3 separate regions of the Homo sapiens genome follow, and regions 2 and 3 are each linked to region 1. Evidence: fine-mapped expression QTL. A gene starts in region 1. Each other region holds a variant in brackets. All regions are shown on one strand. Distances are between the middles of the regions. Region 1 holds the start of TCEA3 (transcription elongation factor A3). Region 2 overlaps ASAP3 (ArfGAP with SH3 domain, ankyrin repeat and PH domain 3). Region 3 overlaps ASAP3 (ArfGAP with SH3 domain, ankyrin repeat and PH domain 3).

What was found.
Region 2: its variant is fine-mapped to the expression of TCEA3 in whole blood (TOPMed, PIP above 0.99). The same link has a PIP of 0.9 or more in blood mononuclear cells and left ventricle.
Region 3: its variant is fine-mapped to the expression of TCEA3 in whole blood (TOPMed, PIP above 0.99).

What each region holds. Positions count from the first base shown.
Region 1 is chr1:23,423,517-23,426,274 of GRCh38, reverse strand. It overlaps TCEA3 (transcription elongation factor A3), which reads left to right and starts at 1,527. Exons shown (of 11, transcript NM_003196.3): 1 at 1,527-1,710. The coding sequence starts at 1,642. It overlaps LOC124903875 (a long non-coding RNA gene), which reads right to left and starts at 1,409. Exons shown (of 3, transcript XR_007065535.1): 1 at 1,114-1,409; 2 at 15-97.
Region 2 is chr1:23,463,867-23,466,624 of GRCh38, reverse strand. All of the region lies in intron 1 of ASAP3 (ArfGAP with SH3 domain, ankyrin repeat and PH domain 3), which reads left to right. Among named protein-coding and RNA genes, the nearest start is that of ASAP3, 19 kb to the left of the region's middle. The variant T/G (reference allele first, on the strand shown) is at 1,168.
Region 3 is chr1:23,447,562-23,450,319 of GRCh38, reverse strand. The region is part of intron 5 of ASAP3 (ArfGAP with SH3 domain, ankyrin repeat and PH domain 3); the gene reads left to right. Among named protein-coding and RNA genes, the nearest start is that of TCEA3, 24 kb to the right of the region's middle. The variant A/C (reference allele first, on the strand shown) is at 1,517.

The DNA.
Region 1 (2,758 bases):
TCCATTAAACTCACTTATTTAGCAAGAGAACTGGGTCTGCAGGAGATACTTGAAGATCATTGGAGATCATTCCACAGGAAGGCAGATCCCTGCATGGCTGGGGAAGATAGGCACAATTGTGTTTCCACCCCTCCACTAAGATGACTTCCAAACCCAACCCCACTGAGGGGATACTGGCCTGACCTGGCAGCCTTGCACCTGGATCAATATTTCTCAAAATTTGGTGCACTTAAGAATGAATCTCGGCGGGGTGCGGTGGCTCACGCCTGTAATCCCAGCACTTTGGGAGGCCGAGGCAGGCAGATCACGGGGTCAGGAGATCGAGACTATTCCGGATAACATGGTGAAACCCCATCTCTACTAAAAATACAAAAAAATTGGCCGGGCGTGGTGGCGGGCGCCTGTAGTCCCAGCTACTCAGGAGGCTGAGGCAGGAGAATGGTGTGAACCCGGGAGGCAGAGCTTGCAGTGAGCCGAGATCGTGGCACTGCACTCCAGCCTGGGCGACAGTGCGAGACTGCGTCTCAAAAAAAAAAAAAAAGAATCTCATCTGTAATTACAGCACTTTGGGAGGCCAAGGCAGGCGGATCGCTTGAGACCAGGAGTTCCAGACCAGCCTGGGCAACGTAGTAAGACCTAGTCTTTACAAAAAATTAAAAAATTAGCTGGGCATGATGGATGGCTCACGCCTGTAGTCCTAGCTACTCAGGAGGCTGAGGCAGAAAGGATCACTTGAGCTGGGGAAGTCGAGGCAGTGAGCCTGATTGCTCCACTCCACTCTGGCCTCAGCCACAGAGGGAGACCCTGTCTCAAAAAAATAAAAAGAATCTCCCCGATAAGCTCTCACTACTCGAGAGTGTAGTTCTGGGACCAGCAGCACCCCCAGCACATAGGAGCTTGTTAAAAATGCAAAGCCTTACTAACAAAACAGCCAGCAAAGGAAGTTTTAGGTAGACAGAGGCAAACAGGAGCCTGGATACACGTGGCATGCACAGGCCGTGTGCACGATGGAGTGAGTGCAGGTTAAAGCAGAGCTGGATTTAGTGATCTACACACACACACACACACACACACACACACACACACACACACACACACGGGATTCGAGCGCACCGAGTTGCCTCCACTTGGGCATAGGCGCGGAACTGTGTCCTCCCGCTTTGAGATGCAACGGTGCAGAGACGCGGGAGCCCAGAACGCTTCCCAGGGCCCCTGGGACACCCTCGGGCGCCCTCCGCGCCGCGACCGCCGCCTGTGGCCAGGTCACAGCCTCCCAGCTCGCCAGAGAGCCCTCCTTCCCAAATCTCTCTTCGGTCCCCCGGCGCCCCTGGAAGGGCCGGAGTTGGAGGGTCCCCTCTCTCAGCCTCGTCCCTCCCCTGAGGCCCGATCGGCCGGCGCGGGCAATCAGTGCCCGGGCAAGTCCTTGAAGTCTATATTTAGTGCCCGCCACCCCTCCCCCGCACAGTTGGGAGGCGGGCGGTGGGGGGGTGGGGGTGGGGAGAGCCCCGCCCCCGCCGGGCGTGTGTGTCGTGTGTGTTTGGGGCCCGCGCGGGTTGCGCGCCCTCCGCCTTCGCGCCTCCTGCCCCCGAGGCCCTACTGCTGCCCCTGTGCCCCTCGCCCCGCCGGGCGTCGCGGGCCAACATGGGCCAGGAAGAGGAGCTGCTGAGGATCGCCAAAAAGCTGGAGAAGATGGTGGCCAGGAAGAACACGGTGAGGCTGCAGAGTTTGGGCCACGGCCCCCGCCCCCGGGAGGCGCGGGCAAGCCCCGGATTCCGGGGTGGGGACGTACTGGCGGGGCGCCATGGGGGCGCGTACGGGACTCGGGGACCCGAGGGAGGAGCGGCTGGTGCAGGGCCCAAGGCCCCTTGGGGACCCTTGCTGAGCACCTCGAGGTGGGCGTGTGCGTGGCCCAGGACGCCAGGGGGATCGTGCGGGTCCCGGAGGCGCGACTTGTGCACGTCCCTTTGGACGTGTAGGGTTCACCCTGGGCAGCTAGTGCAGGGCCCAGGAAAGCGGGCGAAGAGAGCTGGACGTGGGAAAGGACTTTGGGAGTCCCAGGGCTTGGCGTGTGCAAAGCCCGGGGAGCGGCGGCGATGGCGGGGGCGGGGCGGGGGGCAAATCCGGGTGGCCCGAGAAGTGGCAGAGAAACTTGGGCTGACGGGGGTACTGAGCTGCATCCCTGCACCCCGGAGTGGGTCTGCGGGAGAGAAGTAAAAGGCCGTGGATCCTGCGACCCCACCGCTTGGTGCGTCAGGAGCGGTTCTTTTGGCAATTTTCCCTTTCCTTGGCCTTGGGGTGCGGCCCGGACGGGCGGGGGCCGAACAGGTGCGGGGGCCCGCGGGGCGGGGGAAGGGGGCCGGGCTGGAGGCCTGTGCAGCGAGGGCGAGGGCGGAGGGAGGAGCGGGCTCGGCGGGAGGTTGGGAGCAGGGCTGACAGCCCTACCGGAGGGTCCTGGCCAGAGCGCAGACCCAGCTGGAAGTTAATGTTTGATCTTCCCCGTGATCTTTGCCTGGGGCTGGCGGCCGACTGGTCGCCTGGCCAGAGCAAATTTGGCCTTGGGTCCTGGAGGGCCTGCGCTCACCCTGGGAGGGAAAAAAAGGGAGCCTGGTGAGCATGCCCTTCCCACCTCCCGTTCCTGTTCCAGGGTCCTCTTCCTCCCACCATCCGTAGCCATGTGCTGCAGCCACCTGCATTTCCAGGACACTTAGGAGCCTGGGAAAGGAAGAGACACTAAGGGAAGTTTTAGAGCCAGGAAGAG
Region 2 (2,758 bases), 40 kb before region 1:
CTTCTAGGCAGGGCAGCTGGGCATGGCCTAGTGCTGCCATCTGTGGTCTTTTGCCTGCAGAGAACACAAACCAGAGAGCCAGAGCATGGTGTGTGTGTATGTTGGGATCAGGGTAGGGGACACAAAGGGCAGTGCCAGCAGCTGGAATTTAGGCCTTGTTTAGGGCCAGCCAGGGTAGGCTGCCCAAAGGACTCCAGTGGGCTTTCCAAGCTCAGACGTGTCTCTTACACTAAGATGTGTTTCAGCCACCTTTGCCCAGTGCCTGCCAGGCTCTTGCATGGATCCATTGACTCTTAGCTTTGAATGAAATCTAAATAGCTGTCCATTCTAATCCAAAATCCAGTGTCTGAATCACTCTCTAGCACCTAAAGTATTTGAATACTTCAAGTGACAGGGAGCTCACTGCCTTCAGGGGTGGCCTGTTCTTCCTTAGAAATGTCCCCTGTTTGAGCTGAAGTCTGTTTCTGCCTCCCTAACTTCCACCTCTCAGTCCTGGGAATCCTCTCTGAGGCCAGCCTGAACAAATCCGTTTTCTTTTCAGTAGGACATCCTTTACAGTGTTTGTATTCGGGGCCTCACCATTGCTGTCAACCTTGTTTTCCTTGGACAGATCTCCCTCTGTGCCCTGCCTTCTCCCTTTCCTAAGCCTGAGGGGATGGTGAGGGAATATGGTAGAGGTGGTAGAATTGGGATTTAGGTTTGGAGGCAGATCCAGTCCCAAGATCAAATAAGCTGTGCCCCCTAACTTTGTGGGGCAGCTTAGAGATGGGGAAAGAACATTGGCCCTGGATTTGGCTAGTCCTGGATTTAAATTGTAACTCTGGGCCAGGTGCAGTGGCTCATGTCTGTAATCCCAGCACTTTGGGAGGCCGAGGTGGGCAGATCATCTGAGGTCGGGAGTTCGAGACCAGCCTGGTCAAGATGGCGAAACCCTGTCTCTACTAAAAATACAAAAATTAGCTGGGCATGGTGGCACACGCCTGTAAACCCAGCTACTCAGGAGGCTGAGGCAGGAGGATCGCTTGAACCCAGGAGGCAGAGGTGGCAGTGAGCTGAGATTGTGTGTCTGCACTCTAGCCTGGGCGAGAGTGAGAGTCTATCCCCCCCCCAAAAAAAAAGAAAGAAAAAAAAGAAAAAAAGTTACAGCTCTGCCACTGTTCATCACTG[T/G]GTGACTTGGACATGTTCCTCCTCCTGACAGCTTCATCTTTAAAATGGGAATGGCAATGCCTTCCTCAAAGAGTGGCCAGGATAGTGACAAGTAATGAGGCTGCACAGAGCAGGCACTTGGGACATGCTGCTTGCACTCTCCCTGCCCGGCGGCAGAGGTCTGCTGTGGTCCCTCTCCACCTGTGCTTCCCCACAGCTTGCTGACGAGGATCAACATGGAGTTGGGGGTGTGGGGAGATATGTTTAATTAATTCAATGAAAGTTGAGAAATTCCTAAACCAAATTCAATTTAATTTTGAAGTAGATAACATTTTTAGTTATCAAATAGTGGACAGTATTCTAAGCACTTTACCTATAGAATTTACTTAATCTCCCCAGTAACCTTATGTGGTACGCAATATTATCATCTTCATTTTATGAATGGGGAAATTGAGGGACTGAGAGATCACATCAGGTACCTGGTGGAGCTGGAATTCAAATCCAGGTAGTTTGGGGACAGCCCCATACTTTTAGCAATGATGATGTACTGCATCTCTGAAGAGAATTAGAACAGTAATTCCCAAACTTTAGCATGCATTAGAATCACCTGGAGGGCTTGTTAAACCACAGATTGCTGGACCTCACCCCCAGATTTTCTGATTCAGCTGGAGAATTTGCTTTTCTAACAAGTTCCTGGATGATGCCTGCTGCTGGTTGAGGGCCCCCACCTTGAGAATCTCTGACTATCAGGGATTAAATGGGCCCACCTGAACCCAGAAGCTGATTTTTTTTTTTTTTTTTTTTTTTTTTTTTTTTTTTAAGACAGTGTCTCATTCTGTCACTCAGGCTGGAGTGCAGTGGCATGATTATAGCTTACTGCAACCTCGAACTCCTGGGCTCAAGGGCTCCTCTCATCCCAGCCTCCCAAATAGCTGGGACTACAGGTGTGTGTCACAGCACTTGGCTAACTTTTTTAAAAAATTTTTTGTAATGGTCGGGTGCAGTGCCTCATGCCTGTAATCCCAGCACTTTGGGAGGCCAAGACAGGAGGATCAGTTGAGGTCAGGAGTTTGAAACCAGCTTGGCCAACATGGCGAAACCCCATCTCTACTAAAAATACAAAAATTAGCCGGGCATGGTGGCGGGCACCTGTAGTCCCAACTACTTAGGAGCCTGAGGCAGGAGAATCGATTGAACCTGGGAAGTGGAGGTTGCAGTGAGCCGAGATCACACCACTGCACTCCAACCTGGGCAACAGAGAGAGACTGTGTCTCAAAAAAAAAAATTTTTTTTTTTTTTGGTATAGATCGGGGTGGGGGTCTCACTTTGTTGCCGAGGCTGGTCTTGAACTCCTGGGCTCAAGCGATCCTCTCACCTTGGCCTCCCAAAGTGCTGGGATGATAGGAGGGAGCCGCCACACCTGGCTTTTCCTTCATCTATCCAGTTTCATGGGAAACGAGGGCTGATCTCACACAGAGGCAGAAAACAAACCACAGTAAGAACCATACTCATGTTTTCCAAATGCCTCAAGCCTTGCCATGTTTGTGATCTCATTAAGCCTCACAGTAATTCTGTGAGTTAAGCAGAGAATGGATTTTTCTGCCTGTAATCC
Region 3 (2,758 bases), 24 kb before region 1:
TTATGTATTTAATCTGTTCCTGTCATTGGAGAAGCATCCTTGGATTTAAATATTTGTCCCTACTCATAATTATTTTTGCAGGATCAATTTCAAGAAGTAGATCCTGGAGCTTTTTATTGTTCCCTCAGCTCCCAGAGCCATGGCACCGCTCCAAGTCTGAGGCAAGGTCACATCTTGTCCCTGCACAAGCATCTCCAGCCCCAGCTGTGGGCATAGATCCTGTGATGAAGGGTGTAGACACTGTGTGGCCATCCCTGTGGGGCCCTATCCCTGCCTGTGATGGGGCACGGCCATCTGCTCTCACTGGAGGCCCAGGGACGGGTAGTGAGGGCACAGGCTGACCTTGTCTTCATGATTTGCTGTGGGGCCACATGGCCCTCTTCTTCCTGAGTTACCTTAACTAAGCCGTTAGACTTTCGGGGATCGTCTACCAAATAGAAATAATAAGCTCTACTCTGCTGACCTTCCCAAAGCAGGTCTGCTTTTCCTAGGTTTCTATATTGAGCCTTCCTGTAGCATTTCATTTACAGGCCAGACTCCATTTAGTTGATGGGAAAGGGGGCTTGGCTGAGGTTATTCGGTGAGTTATCGATAGGACCTGGACTAGAACCCAGGGCTTCTGAGTCTAGTGCTATTTCTGCCATGTGGTCTCCTGGCTCCCACCATGGAGCCACATAGTTTGAGCTAATGTCTTGGCACGGGTGACTGTACACTCCTTTTCATACGGGCTCCAGGTGTAGCCAGATATGCGTGAGCCGTAAGTTCCTATGTAATTTCACCACATTCCTACCAAACAAGTCTGAGCCCCAGCTGGAAGGGCCCAGGGCCCTGATAGCATCTGTCAAATACCACTGGGAGCTTCACCCCTGGCTGTTCATATAGGAGGAGGATTACCTCTCCACGTGGGGCTGCTGAGAAAGGCATCCCGGGCCCTGTACAGAGGCCAAATTTATCTAGGCAGTTCCATGTACAGGTCTGTTTCCTCATCTGTACAATAGGGACAGTAATACCTTTCAGGGTCAATGCGGCGATGAATAAGCACGGTGCATATAAAGCACTCAGCACTTCAGTTCAGCAAGTATTTATTGACCACCTATATGAGCCAGAACTAGGACCAGAATAACACAGGAAGAGATTGACAGGCAGAAACCCACACATCTGCTGGTAGCATTTACCCTAGCCAGCTTTTAATCTTGTGCAAGCCATTTTCCTTCTCTGGATCTCAGCTTCATCATCTGTAAAATGGTCCCTGTTCTGAGAGAGACTGTTATCTCTCAGAAAATAAACAGTGTGACTGTCAGCAGCTCGCAGGAATGAGGCAGGGAAGGAGGAATGGAACAAACCTGAGTCACAGTGTTGGTTGCTTGGGCTGCCCCTAAGGCTTAGGCACCAGCCAGTCCTGGGTTCAACTCCTGGCCCCACCACTTAACAGCTGTGTGACTTGGACAAATGACTTATCTCAGCCATAGGCTCCTCTTCTATAAAATGGGATAATGATCCTGCCTTATGGGGCTAT[A/C]ATTTTAACATATGAAGGGCCTAGCAGAGTGCCTGGGCCTAAAAATTATAACTAGGAGCCTGTAATCCTAGCACTTTGGGAGGCCAAGACAGGAGGATCACTTGGGCTCAGGAGTTCGAAACCAGCCTGGGCAACATAGTGAGACCTTGCCTCTATTTAAAAAATTGATAATAATAATACATATATAATAAATATAATACATATATTTAGAAGCCACACATGGTGGCTAATGACTGTAATCTCAGCTACTTGGGAGGCTGAGGCAGGAGGATTGCTTAAGGCCAGGAAATTTGAGACCAGCTTGGGAGACAGAGCTAGACCTTGTCTCTAAAAAAGAATAATAATAATAATTAGTAATAATAGCAGCTTCTACTTTAGAGTTTCCTTTGTGCCAGGCAGTGGAGTAAGGTCTTTGCATCTATTACCAGATTTATTCTCCCTGGCAGGGAAAGCTGCTATTGTTATTCCCAATTTATAGGTAAGTAGTGAGGAATCCCTGCCACCTAAGCGTGGCTCAAGGTTTCAAGGTTGGTGGGTGTGTGGTATTTAAATACTTTCCTGCCTGCACCAGGAGTACCTGTACCCATCCCATGAATAACACTGGACTGTTGCTGTAGTCTCCTTCTGCAATGATCTCGGTCTTAGTAACTAGCATTTAAGTACTTTCACCCACTATTTCATTTCATTCCTTCTATTGCAATTCCACTCATAAGACAGAAAAATGTTTCTAACATTTGAAATGTTTTAGAAATGTTTTAAAAATGTTGGTGATCCTTTGAGGATAGGGAAGGAATGGGACTTGTTATTTTATAGGGGAAGAAAAGCACTCCCCAGCTATTAGGTCATCTCAGAATGACTATGTCAGACTTTGTAGGGAAAATCTCTATGAATTATCTTAGCTGAGGCTGAGGGACAGAACTGTGATAATTGACAAAGCCATTTTGTCACAGCTGTGTACATTTTGTCAAAGCTGAAGTACATTGACAAAGTTGTGTACTTCACGGCTTATCTACACCTTGAGTTAAGTAGCATCTTTTAATCTCTACTAGCATTCAAAAAATAAAAGAAAGAAAGAAGAAAGTACCATATGCTGAAAAAAATTATCTAAAAGGGATCACCAGTATTTACTACTCTGTCATCATTGCCATCACTTGAATCATCATAATCCTACCATTCATTGAGGGCTTGCCATATGCCAGGAACTGTACTGTTTCCTATGCATTATATTATCCAAGGACTAGG